2 linked regions of the Homo sapiens genome follow. The protein of the gene in region 2 binds, or shares a complex with, the protein of the main gene of each other region. Each region holds a gene or a part of one and is shown on either strand. Other genes may lie near its edges.

Region 1 (12,540 bases), on a different chromosome or scaffold from region 2:
CTCCGTCTCTGCTAAAAATACAAAAATTAGCTGGTGTAGTGGTGGGCGCCTGTAGTCCCAGCTACCTGGGAGGCCGAGGCAGGAGAATCACTTGAACCCAGAAGGTGAAGGTTACAGTGAGCTGAGATCACACCACTGCACTCCAGCCTGGAAGAAGTATACTTAAGACCTGTTATTATATTACACAAATATCCTAGTTTTAACAAAATAAATCAGGAGAGAGTAATCATTTAGTTTATGGAAGTATATTAGAGGCTTTCTTTAAATGGTATTGCCTGAGCCTAGCATTGCTTGAGCCTAGCAGTTCAAGACCAGCCTGGGCAACACAGCGAGACCCCATCTCAACAAAAATTTTAAAAAATTAGCCCGGTGTGGTGATGTGCAGTTCCAGCTACACAGGAGGATGAGGTGGGAGAGCTGCTTGAGCTCAGACATCCAGGCTGCAGTGAGCCATAATTGCATCACTGCACTCCAGCCTGGGTGACAGAGTGAGACCATCTCAGAAGAAAAAAAAAAAAAATTAAAGAATTGGACCACTGGAGATCAATACTATGGGCTTCAAAGACATCTAATAACTATATTGGACTTCTCACTCCAATTCTCAGCCTAACTACAAACCTATATGCAATAAAACTCTGCTACTGGTACTCTGATTTAGAATTAGGATTGACTTTTCTTCTGTGTAGGTTAAGTCACTGAATGCCTGCCTGGCACAGGTAGTATCCCCCTGGTAGGTGAAGTATTATTCCTTCTTCCCCCGCAAGAGACAGGGTCTCCCTCTGTTGCCTAGGCTAGAGTGCAGTGGTGCGATCATGGCTCACTGCAGCCTCAAACTCCCAGGCTCCAGAGATCCTCCCACCTCAGCCTCTCAAGTAGCTGGGACCACAGGTGCTCACCACCATGCCAGGCTAATTTTATTTTTTTGTAGAGACAGGGTTTTGCCATGTTGCCCAGGCTAGTATCAAACTCCTGGACACAAGCAGTTCTGCCTCAGCCTCCCAAAGTGCTGGGATTACAGGCATAGGCCACTGCACCTGGCCTACTATTCCTTTAACATCCAGTTCATGTGTCCCTCCCTTCCAACCGCTGCATCCTCACAAGACAGTTATGATTTGGCTCCTGCTTCTGTAGATCCTCACTTCCAAACTTTTGTCTCTTCATTTCTGATCCACTCCTGAGCAAAGGTTTATTCTTCTTTCTTCTATGTAATGTCCTTACTTTGTATAGGCTCACTATTCTCATGATCCTCTTTATAACATTTTTTTTGTCTATATCTCTGTCTCTACTAGCAGGTTGTGAATTTTCTGAAAGCAAGAACTATATTTACCCACTTGGGGATCTGTAGCACCTGGCATAGTTAAGTGCTACATAGTAGATATTCTCAATAAATGTTTGTGAAATGAGTGAACGGGTAATAGAGAAGTGGTCTACAGATACCTACTTTACTTCCAATTTCTGCTTATTCTATACTCTGTTGAATAGTGATTCTTACCCACTGGGATCATATATCTAATTGAAGAAAGTGGCAAACTCCCTCTCCATAAAAATGCAAATAAATTTGGTACAGGAGGGGTTAATGAAATCTTTGAGCCAAAATGCACACTTAATTATGAAGCCCTGATGGTAAGTAACTGCATCCTATTTGCAAGTTTTGTAATTGCCCAATCTTGAAGAAACCATAACATCAAGACAAATCCGTACCTGAATTTCGTCGCACTTGATTAGCTTTTCCACCTCTCCTTGACTCAGAAGAATGAACTCTTCATGCTGTACCACTTCAGGAAAATGCTTCTGGCTAAAAACCTCAGCTGCTTGCATCAGGTCAACACAATTGTGGGTTTCAGCAAAATCCCTAATACCCAGGCAATTAGAAGGGTCCAACTGACTTTCTAAGAACTCACAGCAGGCTTGTTTCACACCTAGGACAGACACAGGCAGCAAACACTTTAGAATAGTTGGACAGGTGTGATCTAGGATATATTCTTGTATCTCAGCATCTTCTCTACATGTTATCAGATGAACCCTTGTTTCAACACCTAAGAAACAGATTAGAAATTCTATGCTTAAGGAACTTAAACTCTATTTCTGGCTTATGTACTGTGCCACTTTCAGCAAGACCTTTACACCTGTCTCTGCTTAATCTTTAAAATGAGTATTGCAAGATGAATCACATCCAGAGACCTGGCACAATTCAACAAAAATGCCTATAAAACTCTTGGGAATCAAACTATAAAACCAATTGCGAATTCAGCATAATGTATCCATTTTCTACTCTACATGAAAACTTACTAAAAGACTAGAGTGAAAGAAAAGGAGAAGATAGTAATAACAAATCTCATATTTATCTAATTGAAAAGTTCAGAGTATTTTAATGTTATGGCTATGCACTAATGCAAAAGCTTCACACTGTTTAAATCATGTATTAAAAACTAAAAGTGTGTCAATTATGTATATATAAAAACTGAAAACATAACTGAATGTTAAAAAAGAAAAACTGGGGACCAGGAACGGTGGCTCGTGCCTATAATTCCAGCATTCTGGGAGGCAAGGTGGGAGGATCACTCGAGCCCACGAGCTTGAGACCAGCCTGAGCAACATAGAGAGAACTCATCTCCACACAAAAAAATTTTGTTTTAATTAGCTGGGTGTGGTGGCATGCACCTGTGGTCCCAGCTACTCAGGAGGCTGAGGTGTGAGAATTGCTTGAGCCCAAGAATTCAAGGATACAGTGAGCTGTGATTGCACCACTGTGCTCTAATCTGGGTGACAGAGTGAGACTCTGTCTCAAAAACAAAACAAAAAACCTGGGAATTGTAAGGGAAAACAAACCACCTGTAATCCTGTGAAAATATCATACTTTAATATTTTGTGCATCAATTTAAATTTCATGTATCTTAATGAAATACTACCACTTAATGGCCAGATAGATAAAGAGTATCCATGTAGGCTATGTATAGTATCACTTTTTTATTATATTTCCTTATAGGTGTGTTACATACATGTATGTAAGAAAACACATAATTTCTCCTTCCTCCATTTTTTTTTTAAAACAGAAAAGGTGCAAATGCTCTCTTTTATAGAGCCAAATACTCATATCTGGAGAAGTTCCTTTATAGTGCTATTGACATCTGATCTCTTATTGCTCAATGAGACAAAAGCCATGGCCAGCAAACATGAACATCCATAGTTTGTCTCCAAAATGTTCATGATTAAGTTTACACTATTAATTTTCAACCTTTCCAGGGCTATTTTGACATAAACAATAGCAAGTTTTAATGTCTGTACCTTTCAACTGAAGCAGACAGGCTGCAGGAAGCAGTTCTTGTACATTCTCCACTGTCACATGTACTGTTTCTGTGTACACAAAGTCCAATAAAATTTCCATGGTAGAGGCAGTCAAACCTTGGATGTCAACATAAGGTTTCCCCTTCTCTGAGAGCTGAAAATTCAAAAGGTATAAAAGAATGATGGTTATAATTCCACAAGATAAAGGCAGAATCTCATATCTAAGAGCTTAGAGATGTTAATAATATTAATTGAACATTTATCTTTAAAAATTACAGGCCAGGCGTGGTGGCTCATGCCTGTAATCCCAGCACTTTGAGAGGCTAAGGCAGGCAAATCACCTGAGGTCAGGAATTCAAGACCAGCCTGGCCAACACAGTGAAACCCCGTCTCCACTAGAAATACAAAAATTAGTTGGGCATGGTGGCACATGCCTGTAGTCCCAGCTACTCAGGAGGCTGAGGCAGGAGAATTGCTTCAACCCAGGAGGCGAAGGTTGCAGAGAGCCAAGATTGTGCCACTCCACTCCAGCCTGGGCACCAGAGTGAGACTCCATTTCAAAAAAATAAAAAAGAAAGAAAATAAAAAAATAAAATTATGCTCTATTTTGTTGGATTTTTTTTTTTTTTTTTTTTTTTTTGAGACGGAATCTTGCACTGTTTCCCAGGCTGGAGTGCAGTGGTGCCATCTCGGCTCACTGCAAGCTCCACCTCCTGGGTTCATGCCATTCTCCTGGCTCAGCCTCCCGAGTAGTTTGGACTACAGGCGCCCGCCACCACGCCCGGCTAATTTTTTGTACTTTTAGTAGAGACGGGGTTTCACCGTGTTAGCCAGGATGGTCTCGATCTCCTCACCTCGTGATCCGCCTGCCTCAGCCTCCCAAAGTGCTGGGATTACAGGCGTGAGCCACCGCGCCCGGCCAATTTTGTTGGATTTTAATAAAGCAAATATGGCACATTATCTGTAGCTTTCCAAATGAAGTAGGTAGTTATCTATACGCCAGGAATAAGTAATAGGTAACACCTTCCTGGAATAGTAATTTTGCCAGTGAATAACTTTAAAAATCTATTTCATATTAAAATACAGATGTATTTACAGAATAGAATGCAAAAGTTCCATGAACATAACACTGGTCCGTGAACTTTTAAGATAAGACACAATATTTCAAAGAAATTTCATGTTCGTAGAGGAGCCTGTGGGTTATAACTCCAGTCTCTCCAGGACTACCTAGTTCCTATCATCTGTCCTTAGACTACTTTTTTTTCCCCTTTGTTGAGATAGGGTCTTGCTCTGTTCCCCAGGCTGGAGTGCAGTGGTGTGATCTCAGCTCACTGCAACCTCTGCCTCCCAGGTTCAAGTGTTTCTCGTGCCTCAGCCTCCCAAGTAGCTGGGATTACAGGAGTACACCACTACAACCAGCTAATTTTTTTTTTTTTTTTTGACACAGTCTTGCTCTGTTGCCCAGGCTGGAGTGCAGTGGCGTAATCTTGGCTCACTTCAAGCTCCACCTCCCAGGTTCAAGCGATTCTCCTGCCTCAGCCGCCTGAGTAGCTGGGACTACAGGCACATGCCACCATGCCTGGCTAATTTTTGTGTTTTTAGTAGAGATGGGGTTTCACCATGTTGGCCAGGCTGGTCTTGAACTCCTGACCTCAAGTGATCTGCCCACCTCAGCCTCTCAAAATGCTGGGATTACAGGCGTGAGCCACCATGCCCGGCCCTTAGACTGCATTTAGTAATGACGAAAAAGAACATGCAGGTCATCCTAAGGGACTTTCTTATGTAACATCATCTGAATACAAATAAATTATTTGTTACTTTTTCAAAATATTGGGTTAGACTAACTGAATTGTTAGCAGTATATTTAGTCTAAATTGTTAGTAGTATATCTTCTTGAAGCTATGAGTATTGATGAGGCCAGATAATCATAGAAAACTGTTTAGCTAAGAGAAGAAATCTTCAATTTTACAGGAAACTATCTGAAAATACCTTATGAAAATTTTACTAGATCTTAATCTTAGTTTAGAAATTCATTTTACTTAAAAAACTCTGGTGCATCTCCATTATTAACTAAATGGCTTTAACGTTTTTTATTTCTCCATCAGCCAGAGAATAACCAAAAAGCACTCTCTACCAAAGCCAAGAACAAAATCAATCCCTAACACTAAAAAAGTCACTAGCACATTATTTTGAAAAAACATATTAGGTTTTATTAACATTTAATACAGTACTAATATTCATAAACAATTACTATCCCAACACATTAAATGCATTTAATAATTATGGTACTGAAATATGTAAGTACATGTATTCCAGAAATTTCTCATTCAATAAACTACATTTCCATCAAATAGTTTAAATATGGAAACAATTTCACTATGTAAGAACTTAGAGCAATTATACATTTTACAGTTATATTTTGCTTTAGAATTTTTCAGCATGCTTCTCATTTACTACTATTTCATCTGATTCTCACAGCAACCTGGTAAGGTAGTTAGGTCTGATATTATTACTATCTAAGAGATAAAGGGGGGCCGGGCACATGGCTCAAGCCTGTAATCCCAGCACTTTGGGAGGCCGAGGTGGGTGGATCACAAGGTCAGGATATCGAGACCATCCTGGCTAACATGGTGAAACCCCGTCTCCACTAAAAATACAAAAAATTAGCCAGGCGTCAAGGAAAAAAAAAAAAAGAGAGAGCGATAAAGGGTCTAAAGATCAAAGAAGATCCAAGACTTTTTTTTTTTTTTGAGACAGAGTCTCGCTCTGTCACCCAGGCTGGAGTGCAGTGGCGTGATCTGGGCTCACTGCCAGCTCCGCCTCCCGGGTTCACGCCATTCTCCTGCCTCAGCCTCCCGAGTGGCTGGGACTACAGGCGCCCGCCACCACGCACGGCTAATTTTTTGTATTTTTAGTAGAGACGGGGTTTCACCGTGTTAGCCAGGATGGTCTTGATCTCCTGACCTCGTGATCCACCTGCTTCGGCCTCCCAAAGTGCTGGGATTACAGGCGTGAGCCACCACGCCCAGCTGAAGATCCAAGACTTAACCAGTCACTTAGCTAGTAAGAGACAGATATCATTCTTATTAAAGTATTTCAGGAAAAAAAAAAGAGAGAGAGAGAGAGACAAAACCCAGGTCCTCCTGCCTCAGTCTTTGTGATCTTTCAATCAGATGACATTTGAGGAGCATTTCATAGCTGAAGAGAACAAGGAAACCATCTAGTTCAACTACTTTATTTTACAGATCAACCCAGTGAAGTTAGATGGTTCCCAGGGTTTATACAGAATTGCTAAGAGAACTAAGCCTAGAATCCAGGTCTCTGGACTCTCTCCTTTGAACAATTACTCTCAAAAATAAAGACAAAACCATCTAGCATTTCCTTGCCTGATGTCAGTTTTTAAAGAAAGAAATCATCACTGATGAGAAAAAAAGAATTCATTTCCAAATAACAAAAGAGTAAAGACACTATTTTCAAGCTGACAAAAAACAGGATGCACAACATATAATTAGCAATCAGCCGTTCTAGTTCATTTCTTGCTCAGCAGCTGCTGGGTGACACTCTCTTTACCCAGTTAAATTCCAAATGCTTCTGATGATCTTGGGTATATCTCATGGAGAACAGTATAGGACAGGGATCTGCCTTGGTATATCACACAAGTTTATTTAAAAATTAGCCTGAATTAGTTGGAATGACCTGTCAGGTTCCTGTTTTCCCTACTAGCCATGTGACTGAGCATTGGCTCATAGTATTTTTAACTATACCAGTTTTAAAATTAGATTGTAGTATATAAAATTCATACTTCGGAGGCTAAGGCGGCACAAGAGTTACAAACTGTTTGGGCTTTAGAGTTGGAAAATATAAAATGAAATCCCACCTCTAGCACTTACAAGCCATGGGACTTTGGGCAAGTGATTTAATATCTGAAACCCTATTCCTTCATTTGTAAAATGAGATGGTAATACCTACCCCTAGGGTGAGTCAGATATGCACAACAATTACTAGCACAGTACCTGGCCCATAAAAGGTAGTTATTACCATCACAGAATACGCCTCTCCCATTCTGATTCAGCAGCAATATCTACACTAAGATGATAGAACTAACTAAAAAAAAAACAAAAAACAAACAAAAAACTTGTGCTTAAAAAGACTTTTAAAACAGTGTTTTCATAATGAAATATTTCAGGCATACATGTAAGTGTAAATTATATAATAAACAGTGATGCACCCACAACTGAGCTTTGAAAAAATAAATCAAGATAATTTATTTAAATCTGCTCTTAAAATGAGACTTGGGATCTTGAAAAACAAAGATTTGCAATGTTATTTTCTGTTCAGCTTTCTAAGAATATTCAACACAATATATTCAGCAGCCTTACTATACATTTCAAGTATTTTGTCAGGCAATTACTAAGTAGTGTTTCTTAATACTTTGTGAGCACTACCTGTATTCTCTCAAGCCAACCTTTTCCTAATTCCCTTTGTTAAGTGCTTATGAGTTAACATCCTTTCTCAGGTTATACACTCAACGCCTGTACAGCTATTCATTAAAAACTCTTCTTCCTTTCATTTGAAGTTATCCTAAAATTTACACTGATTTTCTTCACATATTGTTAGGAGGAGTGGGATGTGGTTTGAATCCTACTCCTCTCTCCTTCCTTCCTCCTTATCCCTCTGGTATTCACTTAAAAATTTTTAAACTTTAGAAGGAAAAAAGGCTGGATGCCGTGGCTCACACCTGTAATGCCAGGTGTGGCCACTCTGGGAGGCCAAGGCAGGAGGATTGCTTGAGCCCAGGAGTTCAAGACCAGCGTGGGCAACATAGTGAGACCCTGTCTCTACAAATAAATAAATAAAATTAAAAACAAAAAAAGGAGAAAAATTGGAAGACAAATTTAAGAAATAGTAAAATCCAATAGCTGACATGTGTGTTTTACTACATATTACACTATTCTAAGCACTTCCTATGTTATTTCATAAAATAATCTTCACAACAACCTTAATAACCATGTGTTACATATTACTATTATCCCTAACTTAAAGATGAGGAAACTAAGGCATAGTCATCTAAGTGGTAGATCTTATCCAGAATCTGCCAAAACATCACACTGTAAAAATTCAAAATTATATCAAACTTCCACTATTTTATTCAGTGAAATTAGACAACTAGAGTTCCACGGGTTTCATTTGTGTGGGGCTAATTTACCACTTACCTCACTAGTGAACATGGCACAGAAGTAATCACTACAGGCAGCCAGCACAATCCGATGGGCAGGGAAGTCTTTCTGCTCTACTCTCAATGTCACATCACAGAGGGTATTGCTCTTCCTGAGGGAGTTCATTGAATTGAGGATGGATTTAGCATGAGTATTTGTCATTATGTCTTTGGGGGCCATAATGCCTCCCATAAAGCAGTGCGGAGAAAGAACAAAATGGGTCCTTGGATTCTGCAACTACAAGAGGGAAAAAAAAACAATGAGCATATTCAAAGAACTAGGGCAACTGAACATATTTAATTAGCTTTACAAATTAAGAACCTAAGAGGCTTCCTCAGACCCAAACATACACAAGTTGAGGGCACTCCTATGCCTGGCATCACCACCAACCACTAGCCACTATCTAGTCCATGTAAAAGCTCTCTCTTCTTCCTCTGAATTCCTCTATCACGGAGTGTCCCTACCACTTGACATTTAATATGATCAATGCTGAAATGTAAGTAGAGATAAACAATATATGTCTTGTAAATCTTGACAAGGTTCTTGTCTCAAATGATAAACCGAAAATATAAAATTTCTTAAAGGTGTTATATTATTACTATTTAATGTCCTTAAGTAGATAAGTATTTAGAGCATACATAAAAAGAGGATCCTGCTTTATATGTATGCTTTCTATCCTAGAAGTTGCACAATAAATGTTTAGAATTTAATGTAAGAAAAAGTGTGTATTCAACTTCAACTTAGAGCAAGAAAGGCCACTCAGTAAAAATAAACTTTTTTCTAAAGAAGTATCCAAATGATATGTCTGATGACTTCCAAACATATCTGGATTTCTTCTTAAAATGAAACTTCAGGCCGGGCCCAACAGCTCACTCCTGTAATCCCAGCACTTTAGGAGGCTGAGGTGGGTGATCAGTTGAGGTCAGGAGTTTGAGAGCAGCCTGGCCAACATGGTGAAACCTAGTCTCTACTAAAAATACAAAAAATAGCCAGGCGTGGTGATGCGCGCCTATAATCCTAGCTACCAAGAAGGCTGAGGCCCGAGAATCACTTGAACCCAGGAGGTGGAGGTTGCAGTGAGCCGAGATCACACCACTGCACTCCAGCCTGGGCAACAGAGCGAGACTCTGTCTCAAAAAAAAAAAAAAAAAAAGAAACTTCAATTGAGGACCCATTACCTACACTGAATAATGGAAACCACGCAAGTTATCGATGGACTTACACTTGCTTAAGATATTGAAGCTCTTCAACAAGAGGGTATTCCTACTCTACATCTGTGAATGTCCATTACTGTTAAAGAATCGATATTGGAATCCAAAACTTTCTGAAATGATCCGGGGGGAAGGAAATCAAACTGTGGTCTCCAAAAGTCCACAAGTCACAATTAATCTTTCAACAGGAAAAATGAGATCCTAAATTCTCATCTACTTCTGTTTGTAGTTGGCATTTTACTCTATAAGCACTATAGATAATTCCTCCAACAACTCTGCAAGACCCATTTTACAGAAAAGCGGGTGATTCATCAAAGCATATGTTTTTCAAAAAGACTTAAGTCAACTTAGTTGCAACTCTAGGGGTGTAAAAAGGTCTAGAACAAATGTCCATTTACTATGAAGACAGCCCGGGGGGTCTTTTATCGTTTCCGTGTCAAAATGACAGTACCCCGGTGCAGAGTGGTCTTCCTTCTAGGGGATTCCTGCCTCAACACTCCAAGTCTCAGCATATCCTTCATCCTCACCCTTCTGAAGTGACCTATTTTCTAGAACTTTCGTTAACATCTGAATGGAGGGATTCCACTTCGGGAGATTCGGGGCAGGGAATGGGTAGTAAACTCGGGAAAGACTAAATTCTAGAGAAGGAAACGAAGTCCTTCCTCCTAATACCACCAGGCATATGGCCGCCACCGCCAGGTGGAGGTATCGGAGAGGGGCAGTTCAGGGGGAGAGTTGAGAGGGTGACCGAGGCCAGATGCCCCACCCCACTGCCAGCCTTCCTCCTCTGTTGGGCATGTCTCCCATTCCGCCTTGCAGGGAGACCAAGGATGGGGGGTAGGGCCATAACCCGGAGTTGACGGACAGGAAGGGAAGGGCTGACTGCCATCACTTCCGCGCAACTCACCTCCGCTCCCGAACCCACACAGCCGCACCGGGCCCGTCCCCAGCCTGTGGGGATGGAGTGCGGCGCGGGGCTAGCAGGCGGCTCGGGAGGAGCCGAAGCGCCGCCCAGACCCGGAGGCTCTGGAGGCTCTGGAGCCGTCCGGGTCTGGCCCCTGCGGCCGCGCGACGTGATGACGCAATGCAGCTGGAGCACCGCCCTCCCCCCGCTCCAGAGTCTGCGTCACGTGAGGAGGTGGTGTCACGTGACCTGTCTGTACCCTAGCGCGGGGCTTCTGTACGCTGCTAGGAAGCCGAATTACAAAAAGGTCGGGTGGGCAGGGAATGGTGGCTCACGCCTATAATCCCGGCACTTTGGCAGGCCGAGGCGAGCGAATTACCTGAGCTCCGGAGTTCCAGACCCGCCTGGGGATCACGGCAAAACCCCGTTTCTACAAAAAAAAAAAAAAAAAAAAAATTAGCCCGCACCGCGCCTGTAGTCCCAGCTACTCGAGAGGCTGACAGGAGGATCACTTGAGCCAGGCAGCAGAGGTTGCAGTGAGCCAGGATCGCCACTGCACTCCAGCCTGGGCCACAGAATGAGACCCTGTAAAAAAAAAAAAAAAAAAAAAATGTCCAGGCGTGGTGGCTCACGCCTGTAATCCCGGCACTTTGGGAGGCCGAGGCGGGTGTATTACTTGAGGTCAGGAGTTCGAGACCAGCCTGGCCAACATGGTGAAACCCTATCTCTACTGAAAATACAAAAAAATTAGCCGGGCGTTGTGGCACGCGCCTGTAATCCCAACTACTCAGGAGGCTAATGCAGGAGAATCGCTAGAACCTGGGAGGCGGAGGTTGCTGAGCCGAGATCGCGCCATTGCACTCCGGGCTGGGCGACCGACTGAGACTCTGTCTCTTAAAAAAAAAAAAAAAAGGCCAGGCGAGGTGGCTCACGCCTGTAATCCCAGCACTTTGGGAGGCCGAGACGGGTGGATCACGAGGTCAGGAGATCGATTCTGGCTAACACGGTGAAACCCCGTCTCCACTAAAAATACAAAAAAATTGGCTGGGCGTAGTGGCGGGCGCCAGTAGTCCCAGCTACTCGGGAAGCTGAGGCAGGAGAATGGCGTGAACCCGGGAGGCGGAGGTTGCAGTGAGCTGAGATCGCGCCACTGTACTCCAGCCTGGGCGACAGAGCAAGACTCCGTCTCAAAAAAAAAAAAAAGAAAAAAGAAAAAAAAGAAAAAACAAAAAAAAGGCTGGATGTTGTGGGGTCCGGCAGGGAGCCTGGGAATGTATCTACAGCTCGGCGATTGGCTGAGCCTGAGTTCCTCCCTACCGCTCACTAGGCAGGGCAGGCAGAGAGAATTCCAACGCTTAATATGCCAAGCATCTGATTGCAGCAAGTATGTTTTACCTTCCAGGTACTGAGGAACTTTTTGACATCGAGAAAACCCACAGAGGCCTCAAATTTATTCACGTCCATTGTCCACAATGGCCTTTTCGGGCCGAACAACGCTGCGGCGAGAATCCTCTGAGCCTTAGGATCCACAGACCTCAGTATATACTCTGCATCATAATGGGCCCTGTCATCACCACTGAATTGATTCTAAGGAAATTCTAATTGATTCAGGAAATTCTAATTTATTTTGGTGCACTTAGTGACTGAAAAGGCAAAAAGCTTAATTAGTTCAGCTTATCTGAATGTCTAGACAAATTGTGTTTGGTAATACTATTATGCTCTGTGAGCCCTTTGATTCTTTTTTTTTTTTTTTTTTTTTTTTGAGACGGACTCTTGCTCTGTCGCCGAGGCTCGAGTGCACTGGCGCGATCTCAGCTCACTGCAACCTCCGCCTCCCGGGTTCAAGCAATTCTCCTGCCTCAGCCTCTCCGAGTAGCTGGGAGTACAGGTGCACACCACCACGCCCGACTAATTTTTGTGTTTT
Region 2 (12,540 bases):
ACTAAAAATACAAAAAAAAAATTAGCCGGGCGTGGTGGCAGGTGCCTGTAGTCCCAGCTACTCGGGAGGCTGAGGCAGGAGAATGGTGTGAACCCGGGAGGTAGAGCTTGCAGTGAGCCAAGATCGAGCCACTTGCACTCCAGCCTGAGCAACAGAGAGAGACTCCATCTCAAAAAACAAAGCAAAACAAAACAAACGTTTTAGGCTGGGCACAGTGGGTTCACGTCTGTAATCCCAGCATTTTAGGAGGCCGAGATGGGAGGATCACTTGAGACCAGGAGGTCAAGACCAGCCTAGGCAACATAGGGAGACCCCGTCTCTACAAAAAAGTTAAAGAATTCGCCGGGCATGGTGGCAGACACCTGTAGTCCTAGCTACTTGGGAAGCTGAGGTGAGAGAATCACTTAAGCCCCAGAGATGGAGGTTCCAGTGAGCTGTGATGGCACCACTGCACTCCAGCCTGGGTGACAGAGCAAGACCCTGTCTCCAAAAAAACAAAAAAACTGTAAACCAGGAGCCAGATGTCCTGGCTTCAAATCCCAACTGTGCCATTTATTAGCTGTGTGACCTTCGGCAAGCTGCTTTACCTCTCTGAGCCATATTTTATTTTATTTGAGACACAGTCTCGCTCTTTCAGCCAGGCTGGAGTACAGTGGTGCAATCTTGGTTCAGCTTACTGCAACCTCTGCCTCCCTGGTTCAAGCGATTCTCCTGCCTCAGTCTCCCAAGTAGCTGGGATTACAGGTGTGCACCACTGTGCCTGGCTCATTAACATTTTACTTTTTGATATTAGGATTGAGTCCATATATATGTGGCACTTAGAACAGTGCCTGGTGTCTAAGTGCATTATATATATAATCATATTAGGGCTGGGTGCGGTGCCTCACTCCTGTAATCCTGGCGTTTTGGAATACTGAGACTGGAGGATCATTTTAAGCCAGGAGTTTAAGACCAGACTTGGCAGCAAAGTGAGGTTCCATCTCCACAATAAACAAACAACCAAAAATTAGCCAGGCATGATGGCACGAGCCTGCGGTCCCAGCTACTCAGGAAGCTGAAGCAGGAGGATTGCTTGAGCCCAAGAATTCGAGGCTGCAGTGAGCCATGATCACACCACTGCAGTCCAGCCTGGGCGACAGAATGAGATCCCATCTTAAAAAAAAAATCCTGGTTGGGCGAGGTGGCTCACGCCTGTAATCCCAACACTTTGGGAGGCCGAGGCAGGCGGATTACTCAAGGCCAGGAGTACATGACCAGCCTGGCCAACAAGGTGAAACTCCGTTTCTACTAAAAATACAAAACTTAGCCAGGCTTGGTTGTGGGCACCTGTAATCACAGCTACTTCGGAGGCTGAGGCAGGAGAACCACTTGAACCCAGGAGGTGGAGGTTGCAGTGAGCCAAGATTGCACCACTGGACTCCAGCCTGGATGACAGAGTGAGACTACGTCTCAAAAAAACCCCCGAAAAAAAAGAAAACAAAGGCTTCCAGAGGTTAGGACACTTGTACCAGGTGGGTTAGCTGATCAAGGAAGAATTAAAGAGGTGGGTGGGGAATAGACTGAGTCAAGGACAGGTGGGACATGAAGCTTGGGGTGGGGAGGAATTATGTGCGTCTTACCTCCCTCTCTGAGGACTCCTCGCCCTGGAGCACGGGAGATGGGGAGTCAGGCTCAGTGTGTGGGGGCGGTTTCTGGGGGCCACCCAGACCTGCCAGCGTGTCTTCCACCATCCACAGCTGCTGCTGAGCAGACACTCTGTCCTGCAGGGAGGAAAGGAATTTGTTACTTAAAGGTGGGAAAACGCAGGAGGGTTTCAGCTAATAGGCCCCTGCAAAGGTCTGAAATCAGCTGGGCTATATTTATGGAGTTGGGATTTATTTTTTTTCCCATGTGGTTATCCAGTTGAATTGAAAAAAACTGTCTTGGCTGGGCGCGGTGGCTCACGCCTGTAATCCCAGCACTTTGGGAGGCCGAGGCGGGCGGATCACGAGGTCAGGAGATCGAGACCATCCCGGCTAAAACGGTGAAACCCCGTCTCTACTAAAAATACAAAAAATTAGCCGGGCGTAGTGGCGGGCACCTGTAGTCCCAGCTACTTGGGAGGCTGAGGCAGGAGAATGGCGTGAACCCGGGAGGCGGAGCTTGCAGTGAGCCGAGATCCCGCCACTGCACTCCAGCCTGGGCGACAGAGCGAGACTCCGTCTCAAAAAAAAAAAAAAAACTGTCTTTTGGCCAGGCGTGGTGGCTCACACCTGTAATCCCAGCATTTTGGGAAGCCGAGGCGGGTGGATCACCAGAGGTCAGAAGTTCAAGACCAGCCTGGCCAACATGGTGAACCCTCGTGTCTACTAAAAATACAAAAAAAAATTAGCCGGGGGTGGTGGTGCATGCCTGTGATCCCAGCCACTCGGGAGGCTGAGGCAGGAGAATTGCTTGAACCCAGGAGGTGGAGGTTGCAGTGAGCTGAGATCGTGCCACTGCACTCCAGCCTGTGCAACAGAGCGAGACACTGTCTCAAAAAAAAAAAAAAGAAAAAGAAAAAACTGTCTTTTCTTTCTATGTTGTTTTACTGTGTTACATCTATTATAAATAGGTGACCATACGAATATGAGAGTCTGTTCTTTTTGTTTGTTTTTGGAGACAGTCCCTCCCTCTGTCACCCAGGCTGGCGTGCAATGGCTTGATCATAGCTCACTGCATCCTCGAACTCTTGGGCTTAAGCGATCCTTCCACCTCAGCCTCCTGAGTAACTGGGACCACAGGCGTGCACAACCAGGCCCAGCTAATTTTTTCACTTTTATTTTTAGTAGAGACAGAGTTTCACCATGTTGCCCAGGCTAGCCTCAAACTCCTGGGCTCAGGTGATCCACCTGCCTCATCCTCCTAAAGTGCTGGGATTACAGGTGTGAGCCACTGCAGCTGGCATGGGTCTGTTCTTGCCAAGTCTGGATTGTAGATCTAGTGGGAGCAGCTTAGAGTGAGAAGATGCATTTAAAACTAGGCATCAATGGTTTTTTGTTTTTTGGGGTTGTTGTTGTTGTTTTTTAAGATGGAGTCTCTCCCTATCACCCAGGCTGGAGTGCAGTGTCACGATCTCGGCTCACTGCAACCTCCGCCTCCCGGGTTCAAGCGATTCTCCTGCCTCAGCCTCCTGAGTAGCTGGGACTACAGGCGTGCACCAGCACACCCAGCAAATTTTTCTATTTTTAGTAGAGACAGGGTTTCACCATGTTCGTCAGATTGGTCTCCAACTCCTGACCTCAAGTGATCCACCTGCCTTGGCCTCCCAAAGTGCTGGGACTACAGGCGTGAGCCAACACGCCCGGCCGTGTCAATGTTTTTAAAGATACATGATTTAGAACTTGATGGCTAGATTTAGAGTGAAAAAGCAGGTCTGAGGCTAAGCAATGAGGTTTATATTTTAGGAGCAGAGCTTGCACTAAAGGAATGGGTTCAGAACTGGAACTCCAGAGGATAAATTTAACAGCAAAAGTCAGGATGCAGGATGCAAGAGATGAACTTGCAAGATGGAAAAAAGGCTGAGGGTTGGAGTTTTGCTGGTGAGAGCATGGCTTCAACAAGAGGAGAGATTTAGAACCAGGGGAGAGAGCAGCTCTGGATCTGAAGTAGGTATTAAAACGAAAGGCATTGGCCGGGCGCAGTAGCTCATGCCTATAATCCCAGCACTTTGGGAGGCCGAGGCAGGCGGATCAGAAGGTCAGGAGTTCAAGACCACCCTAATCAACATGGTGAAACCCCGTCTCTACTAAAAATACAAAAATTAGCCAGGCGTGGTGGCACACGCCTGTAGTCCCAGCTAGAGGCTGAGGCAGGAGAATCACTTGAACCCGGGAGGCAGAGGTTGCAGTGAGCCGAGATCACACCACTGCACTCCAGCCTGGGCAACAGAGCAAGACTCCATCTCATAAATAAATAAGAGGGCGGCCAGGCGCCGTGACTCACGCCTGTAATCCCAGCACTTTGGGAGGCCGAGGCGGGTGGATCATGAGGTCAAGAGATCTAGACCATCCTGGCCAACATGGTGAAACCCCATCTCTACTAAAAATACAAAAATTAGCTGGGCATGGTGGCACACACCTGTAGTCTCAGCTACTGGGGAAGCTGCGGCAGGAGAATTGCTTGAGCCTGGGAGGTGGAGGTTGCAGTGAGTCGAGATTGTGCCACTGCACTCCAGCCTGGCGACAGAGCAAGACTATGTCTCACACACACAAAAAAAGAAAATAAAAAATAGAAGGGCTGTGTGCGGTGGCTCACGCCTGTAATCTCAGCACTTTGGGAAGCTGAGGCGGGTGGATCACCTGAGGTCAGGAGTTCAAGACCAGCCGGACCAACATGGAGAAACCCCGTCTCTCATAAAACTACAAAATTAGCCAGACATGGTGGTGCATGCCTGTAATCCCAGCTACTCGGGAGGCTGAGGCAGGAGAATTGCTTGAACCTGGGAGGCGGATGTTGCGGTGAACCGAGATTGCACCATTGCACTCCGGTCTGGGCAACAGAACGAGACTCTATCTCAAAAAATATAATAAAATAAATAAAATAAAAATAAAAGAGTAGGCCAGGCACAGTGGCTCACACCGGTAATCCCAGAACTTTGGGAGGCCGAGGTGGGTGGATCACCTGAGGTCAGGAGTTCGAGACCAGCCTGACCAACATGGTGAAACCCCCCTCTCTACCGAAAATAGAAAAATTAACCGGGCATGGTGGTGGTCATCTGTAATCCCAGGTACTTGGGAGGCTGAGGGAGGAGAATCGTTTGAACCTGGGAGGCGGAGGTTGCAGTGAGCCAAGATTGTGCTACTGCACTCCAGCCTGGGCAATAAAGCGAGACTGTCTCAAAAATAAAAATAAAAAATAAAAGAGTATAATGGATTGTTTGTAACACAAAAGATAAATGCTTGAGGGGATGGACACCCCATTTTCCATGATGGGATTATTATACATTGCATGCCTGTACCAAAATATCTTATGCACTTCATAAATATATTCATCTGCTATGTACCCACAATACATTTTTTAAAAAGAATGTTGTAGGCCGGGCGCAGTGGCTCACGCCTGTAATCCCAGCACTTTGGGAGGCCGAGGCAGGCAGATCACCTGAGGTCGGGAATTCAAGACCAGCCTGACCAACATAGAGAAACCCCGTCTCTACTAAAAATACAAAATTAGCTGGGCGTGGTGGCGGGCACCTGTAATCCCAGTTACTCAGGAGGCTGAGGTGGGTGAATCGCTTGAGCCCGGGAGGCAGAGGTTGTGGTGAGCTGAGATCGTGCCATTGCACTCCAGCCCGGGCAACAAGAGTAAAACTCTGTCCCCCTCCCCCTCAAAAAAAAATGTTGTAAAATTATAGCCAACTTTACAGCAGAAATTAGGTCTGGCGCAGTGGCTCATGCTTGCAATCCCAGCACTTTGGGAGGCCGTGGCAGGCAGATCACTTGAGGTCAGGAGTTCAAGACCAGCCTGACCAACATGTCTCTACTAAAAATATAAAAAGTAGCTGGGCATGGTGGCATGTGCCTGAAATCCTAGCTACTTGGGAGGCTGAGGTGGGAGAATCACTTGAACCTGGAAGGCAGAGGTTGCAGTGCGCCAAGATTGCGCTACTGCACTCCAGCCTGGGCGACAGAGTGAGACTGTCTTAAAAACAAACAAATAAACAACTTTACAGCAGAAATTAGATAACAGCTCGAGAAAACGGCATTCAAAATTGAAGCTTAATTAAAATTTTAATGAGAGAATTTAAAAAAAAACCCCAAAGGGCATGGTCTTAACTAAAATAAGGGGCTTAGATTGAAAGGACAGAAAGGAGGCTAAGGGTCAACTGGGCGGGGCCTCGATTCTGTGGGCGAAGATTAAATGCTAAAAGGATTTCCAGGCAGAACTTGGAGTTGGGGGTGGGTCTTGGGGTCTCCAAGCAGCGATTTACCTGGGGAGAACCAAGGTGCAGCAGGTACTCCAGCGTCTCTCTTAAGGTGCCCAGCTCCTGCTCCAGGCCACTGTACGTGTCCCAAACCCTCTCTCGCTCCTCAGGTTGCATAAAGGGGGAGACATAGGTTAGGTCCCTCTCCCACCAGATCCTTCCCCACCCCATCATTTGTCAGCTAAGGAGGAGATAAGGGAGTTTGGTCCCTGGAGCCCTGCAGGCGTATGGACTACAATTCCCATGGGCCTCTTTGCTTGGACTACTGGGAACCCCAAAGTCTGTATGGAACCTGCAATTCCAGTACACTGCTAGTGTAGACAAATAACAGCATTCCCTGAATCCCCAGGATTACTTCTGCTCTCTCCTAGGTAGCAGAGTCTACAGATCTAATGAATTTCATTAGACAGTTAAAAGACCACAGCACCCAGCCAGACACGGTGGTTCAGGCCTTTAATCCCAGCTATTTGGGAGGCCAAGGCGGGCGGATCACTTGAGGTCAGGAGTTCGAGACCACCCTGGCCAACATGGTGAAACCCCGTCCCTACTAAAAATACAAAAATTAGCCAGGAATGGTGGCGAGGGCCTGTAATCCCAGGTATTCGGGAGGCTGAGGCAGGAGGATCACTTGAACCAGGGAGACAGAAGTTGCAGTGAGCCTGGATCCAGGCGCTGCACTCCAGCCTGAGCAACAGAGCAAGAATCCGTCTCAAAAAAAATAACCACAGCACCCACTCACCCTGGGGCAGCAGAAACTTCCTTGCCAATACCAACAATAACAATGATAATATCAGCTAACACTTATTGGGCACTGATCATGTGCTAGGCATTGTTCTCAACTCTCATTTAATTCCTATGAGGTAGTTACTATTATTGTCTCCATTTTACAGATAATAATTATAGCTGACACTTAAGTATTGCTTTACCAAGTACCAAGTACCTTAAGTGTTAAATATTCATTCATTCATTCATTCATTCATTCACTCATTTTCACGTATCACATATAATAATTCTCAGAGTTACTTAAGGCCGGGCGCAGTGGCTCATGCCTGTAATCCCAGCACTTTGGGAGGCTGAGGCAGGCTGATCACCTGAGGTTAGGAGTTCGAGACCAGCCTGGCCAACATGGCAAAACCCCATCTCTACTAAAAATACAAAAATTAGCCAGGTGTGGTGGCACATGCCTGTAATCCCAGTTACTCAGGAGGCTGAGGTTGCAGTGAGCTGAGATGGCACCACTGTACTCCAGCCTGGGCGACAGAGCAAGACTCTGTCCCCCCCAAAAAAAAAAAAATTAGAGTGGTTACAAGACAATGAGGAGAGAGAAAAAATAATAAAATTTGGAGTGTAGACTTCTGAAGAACGATCTTCCTATGAGCCCTCTGGGGCAGGTCCCCTTCGTAACGACTTGCATAGTCCTGGGGCCTCCTAGGAGGGCAGGCCCCTTCCCAGGTGCTCACCTGAGTCAAGTGACAGAGGGTGGCCCTCACACTGACCAGCCGGTCCTGCAAGAGGCGCTGGCGACCCCAGGCCCTCCCGGGAGCCCCAGCCTCCCTGGTGGCTTGGCCCAGCTGTTGCCGGGTCAACTCCAGAGCTGCTTCTAGTTGCTCCTGCACCAAGACAGAAGGTGGTTAGACTTCAGAAGCCATGCCTAGCCCCAAGAAGAAAGAAAAGATGTCCTTTCACGTCCTGGACGTCCAGTCAGCATCCTGACTTCCGCATTCAGGAAGGGCTCAGGGCAGGCAGAGAGGCCAGGCGCCCTGTCCTTGGCCCAGGGCCCCGCACCTTCTCCTCCTGCTTCTGGTCTATCTCCTCCTGCAGCCTCCGCAGAAGCCGGTCCTGCCCGCACAACTTGGTCAGCAGCGTCTGGAGAAAGGAGAGCGGGAGCTACTGATGGTCCAGATCTGGCTCTTCCCCTGCCGCTCCTCCCATCATCTAGAACATTCTCTCCCCAACTCTGGGAACTCAGCAAGGATTAGATCAGTGACAACTTACATCTGTCTCCAAGCTTTGGTGGAAAGTTGACTCCAGGGGAGGACCCGGCTGAAGAGAAGGAAAAAAGTCAGGGGTCAAAGGGGACAGGCTGGTCATTCTTGTAACTCAGTGCTGAGCCACGCCCTGTCTCTACTGATAGGTACTGCACTATTTATTTATTTATTTATTTAGAGATAGGGTCTTGCTCTGTCACCCAAGCTGGTGTGCAGTCGTGCGATCATGGTTCGCTGCAGGCTCAACCTCCTGGGCTCAAGCAATCCTCCCACTTCAGTCTCCTGAGTAGCTGGGACCACAGGCGCACACATCATGCCCGGCTAATTTTTGTAGTTTTAAAATTTTTGTTGCTGTTGGTTTTGGTAGCGATGGGGTTTTGCCATGTTGCCCAGGCTGATCTCAAACTCCTGGGCTCAAGCAATCCTCCTGCCTCGGCCTCCCAAAGTGCTGGGATTATAGGCATGCACCATCATATCATGCCTGGCCTTTTTTTTTTTTTTTTTTTTTTTTTTTGAGTCAAGGTCTGTCACCCAGGCTGGGGTGCAGTGGCATGATCATGGCTCACTGCAGCCTTGAACTCTTAGGCTCAAAGGATCCTCCCACCTCAGCCTCCCAAGTAGGTGGGACAACAGATGCCAGCCACCGGTGCCAGCTAAGGTTGTTTGTTTGTTTGTTTTCAGGGCTGGGGTCTCACTATGTCACCCAGACCAGTCTTGAACTCCTGATCTCAAATGATCCTCCTGCCTTGGCCTCCTGAAGTCCTGGGATTACAGGCATGAACCACCAAGCCTAGCGACCCCTCTCCTTATCAGCTTCCTTCTAAGCATTAGCAAATTTCAGTAGACCAACTTCCACATTCTTGGCTTCAGAAAGATCAATAATGGGCTCTTGATCAAGCAGCCATGGCAAATATTATAATTAATGGAGAAATTTAGACATTTTATTTATGACTAAGAATAAAACAAAGTGCAGGGCACAGTGACTCACTCCTGTAATCCCAAAGCTTTGGGAGGCCAAAGAGGGAAGATCACTTGAGCCCAGGAGTTAAAGACCAGTCTGGGCAACATAGGGAGACCTTGTGTCTGCAAAAAAAATAAAAATAAAAAAATAGGGCCGGGTGCGGTGGCTCATGCCTGTAATCCCAACACTTTGGGAGGCCGAGGCGGGTGGATCACCTGAGGTCAGGAGTTCGAGACCAGCCTGACCAACATGGTGATACCCTGTCTCTACTAAAAATACAAAACTTAGCCAGGCGTAGTGACGGGCGCCTGTAATCCCAGCTACTTGGGAGGCTGAGGAAGAAGAATCACTTGAACCCGGGAGGCAGAGGTTGCAGCGAGCCGAGATCGTGCCATTGCACTCCAGCCCGGGTGACAGAGTGAGATTTCGTCTCAAATAAATAAATAAATAAATAAATAAATAAATAAAATAAGCTGAGCATGGTGGTACATGCCTGTAGTCTCAGCTACTAGGGAGGCTGAGGTGGGAGTATCGCTTGGGCCCAGGAGACTGAGGCTGCAGTGAGCCATGATTGCACCACTGCACTCCAGCCTGGGTGACAGAGTGAGACTCTGTCTCAAGAAAATAAATAATTTTTTTTAATTTAAAAAAAAACAAAAAACAGCCTGGGTAACATGGCAAAACCCTGTCTCTACAAAAAGTAGAAAAAGTTAGCTAGGTGGCCAGGCGCAGTGGCTCATGCCTGTAATCCCAGCATTTTGGGAGGCCGAGGCAGGCAGATCACCTGAGGTCGGGAGTTCAAGACCAGCCTGACCAACATGGAGAAACCCTGTCTTTACTAAAAATACAAAATTAGCAGGGCGTGGTGGTGGGTGCCTGTAATCCCAGCTACTCGGGCAGCTGAGGCAGGAGAATCGCTTGAACCCAGGAGGGGAGGTTGCGGTGAGCCGAGATCACGCCATTGCACTCCAGCCTGGGCAACAAGAGTGAAACTCCTTCTCAAAAAAAAAAAAGAAAAAGGAAGGAAAGAAGGAAAGAAAGAAAGAGAGAGAAAAAGGAAAGGAAAGGAAAGAACGAGGAGGGGAGGGGAAGGGGAAGGGGAAGGGGGAAAGAAAGAAAGAAAGGAAGGAAGGCCAGTCGCGGTGGCTCACGCCTGTAATCCCAGCACTTTGGGAGGCCGAGGCGGGCAGATCACAAGGTCAGGAGATCGAGACCATCCTGGCTAACACAGTGAAACCCCATCTCTACTAAAAATACAAAAAAGTTGGGCCAGGCGCAGTGGCTTACGCCTGTAATCCCAGCACTTTGGGAGGCCGAGGCGGGAGGATCACGAGGTTAGGAGTTCGAGACCAGCCTGACCAACATGGTGAAACCCCGTCTCTACTAAAAATACAAAAATTATCCAGGCATGGTGGCACGTGCCTGTAATCCCAGCTATTCAGGAGGTTGAGGCAGGAGAATTGCTTGAACCAGGGAGGCGAAGGTTGCAGTGAACCGAGATCGCGCCACTGCAATCCAGCCTGGGCGACAGAGCGAGACTCTGTCTCAAGAAAAAAACAAAGAAAAAAATACAAAAAAATTAGCCGGGCGTGGTGGCGGGCGCCTGTAGTCCCAGCTATTCAGGAGGCTGAGGCAGGAGAATGGCATGAACCCGGGAGGCAGAGCTTGCAGTGAGCCGAGATCGCACCACTGCACTCCAGCCTGGGCGACAGAGAGAGACCCCGTCTCAAAAAAAAAAAAAAAAAAGAAAGAAAGAAAGAAAAGAAAAGAAAAAGAAAGAGAAAGAAAGAAAGAAAGAGGTTTTTGCGGATTTAAGTTAAGTTACGACGATGTCATGGGGTGTCCTAATAGGAGGAGATGGACAGCAACAAAAACACAAAGGAAGATCATCATGGGATGATGGAGGCAAAGATGTGGCCATAAAAAAAACCACAGAACCTCAGGAATTGCTGGCAACCACCAGAAGCTAAGAGAGAGTCAATAAAAGCTCCTCCTTAGAACCTTCAGTGGAAGTATAGCCCTGCCAATCCCTTGACTCCAGGCCTCTGGCCTCCAGAACCGCAAGATAATCCATTTCTGTTGTTTTCGGCCATGCGCTTTGTTACAGCCACCACATGAATCTAATACCTACCCAGGGTCTTTGAAATATCTACAGTTCTCTAGGCACCCTAGGCCAAGAGATGACATTCCTCATAGAGAAGAAAGGAAGGGAGGGGGCTCCGGTAGATTTAGGGTACTCCAGGATACCTACCAATAAAACCATGGAGGCCCGGGTCCCAGGGGGCCGCGGGGGGAGCTGGAGATAAGTGGGGGAGCCAGAGTGTGCCTGGGAGGAACGTTGAAATGGAGATGTTTAGAAACTGGCATGTCTGGGAGACTTTTCATTTTGTTCTGTACTAAGAAAAATTCTTCTGCCTTGGGATCCTGTTGATCTATGACCTTACCCCCAACCCTGTGCTCTCTGAAACATGTGCTGTGTCCACTCAGGGTTAAATGGATTAAGGGCAGTGCAAGATGTGCTTTGTTAAACAGATGCTTGAAGGCAGCATGCTCGTTAAGAGTCATCACCACTCCCTAATCTCAAGTACCCAGGGACACAAACACTGCGGAAGGCCGCAGGGTCCTCTGCCTAGGAAAACCAGAGACCTTTGTTCACTTGTTTATCTGCTGACCTTCCCTCCACTATTGTCCTATGACCCTGCCAAATCCCCCTCTGCGAGAAACACCCAAGAATGATCAATAAAAAAATAATAATAATAATTAAAAAAAAAAAGAAACTGGCATGTCTTAGTGACAAATAGTAGAGTGGGCATGTCCATAATTGAAGTGCTTTAGGAGATATTTTGAGGTTCAGAACTGGGCCCTCTCAACTTCCTCAACTACCTGCTCTCCAGCTGTGTGCCACTGTGGGGACACAGAGGGTGATAATAAATGCACCAGCCTGGCAAAACAGCCCCACAAGATGATGGAATTTGCTACTCTCATTCTCAGACTTGCAGTCAGCTGTGGATATTCTGAGCTACCGTCCCATGATGCTCAGACAAAACAGCAGGCAACCAACTTGCAAGGTGAACTGGGGACACAAGGGAGATGCAAACCTCTCACCGCACTGTCTTGGCACAGAGTATCCAGGACTACAATCCCCATGATGCTTAAAGAGCAATGGCTGGGCCAGGCGCGGTGGCTCACGCCTGTAATCCCAGCACTTTGGGAGGCTGAGATGGGCAGATCACCTGTCAGCTGGTCAGGAGTTCGAGACCAGCTTGGTCAACATGGTGAAACCTCATCTCTACCAAAAATATAAAAATCAGCCGGACGTGGTGGCAGGTGCCTGTAATCCTAGCTACTCGGGAGGCTGAGGCAGGAGAATCGCTTGAACCCGGGAGACAGAGGTTGTAGTGAGCCGAGATCGTGCCACTGCCCTCTAACCTTGGCGACAGAGCAAGACCTCAGTCTCAAAAAAAAAAAAAAAAAGCAATGGCCGAAGACCAGCCTAGAAAGACAGCCCAGACACCTGAGAGGAGCTGGACACCTGATAGGTTCAAGCTCTCTCTCACCTGAGCCCAGCTGAGATCATTATGGACTACAATACCCATGACACCCAGGGAGCAATGGCCTTGAGAATACGGAAAGACAGCCCTGAGGCCTGA

What was found.
Region 1: the proteins of PLEKHA4 (region 2) and KLHL12 are in contact, whole or in part, in a crystal structure (PDB 8OIO), measured with the Homo sapiens proteins. Residues at the interface, in NP_065955.2 of Homo sapiens: Pro177, Gly178, Gly179, Pro180; in NP_067646.1 of Homo sapiens: Phe289, Arg320, Glu417, Tyr434, Ile439, Phe481, His486, Cys511, Tyr512, Tyr528, Leu533, Cys558.

The regions. Positions count from the first base shown.
Region 1 is NC_000001.11:202,916,470-202,929,009, forward strand, and holds the start of KLHL12 (kelch-like protein 12), read right to left. Parts: upstream 10,766-12,540; 5' UTR 10,620-10,765; intron 8,739-10,619; coding exon of another isoform or gene 8,694-8,738; coding exon 8,499-8,693; intron 3,440-8,498; coding exon 3,286-3,439; intron 1,920-3,285; coding exon 1,702-1,919; intron 1-1,701. UniProt on the Homo sapiens protein: Substrate-specific adapter of a BCR (BTB-CUL3-RBX1) E3 ubiquitin ligase complex that acts as a negative regulator of Wnt signaling pathway and ER-Golgi transport.
Region 2 is NC_000019.10:48,846,281-48,858,820, forward strand, and holds part of PLEKHA4 (pleckstrin homology domain-containing family A member 4), read right to left. Parts: intron 11,217-12,540; coding exon 11,142-11,216; intron 7,985-11,141; coding exon 7,937-7,984; intron 7,808-7,936; coding exon 7,727-7,807; intron 7,552-7,726; coding exon 7,402-7,551; intron 6,047-7,401; coding exon 5,948-6,046; intron 1,761-5,947; coding exon 1,620-1,760; intron 1-1,619. UniProt on the Homo sapiens protein: Binds specifically to phosphatidylinositol 3-phosphate (PtdIns3P), but not to other phosphoinositides.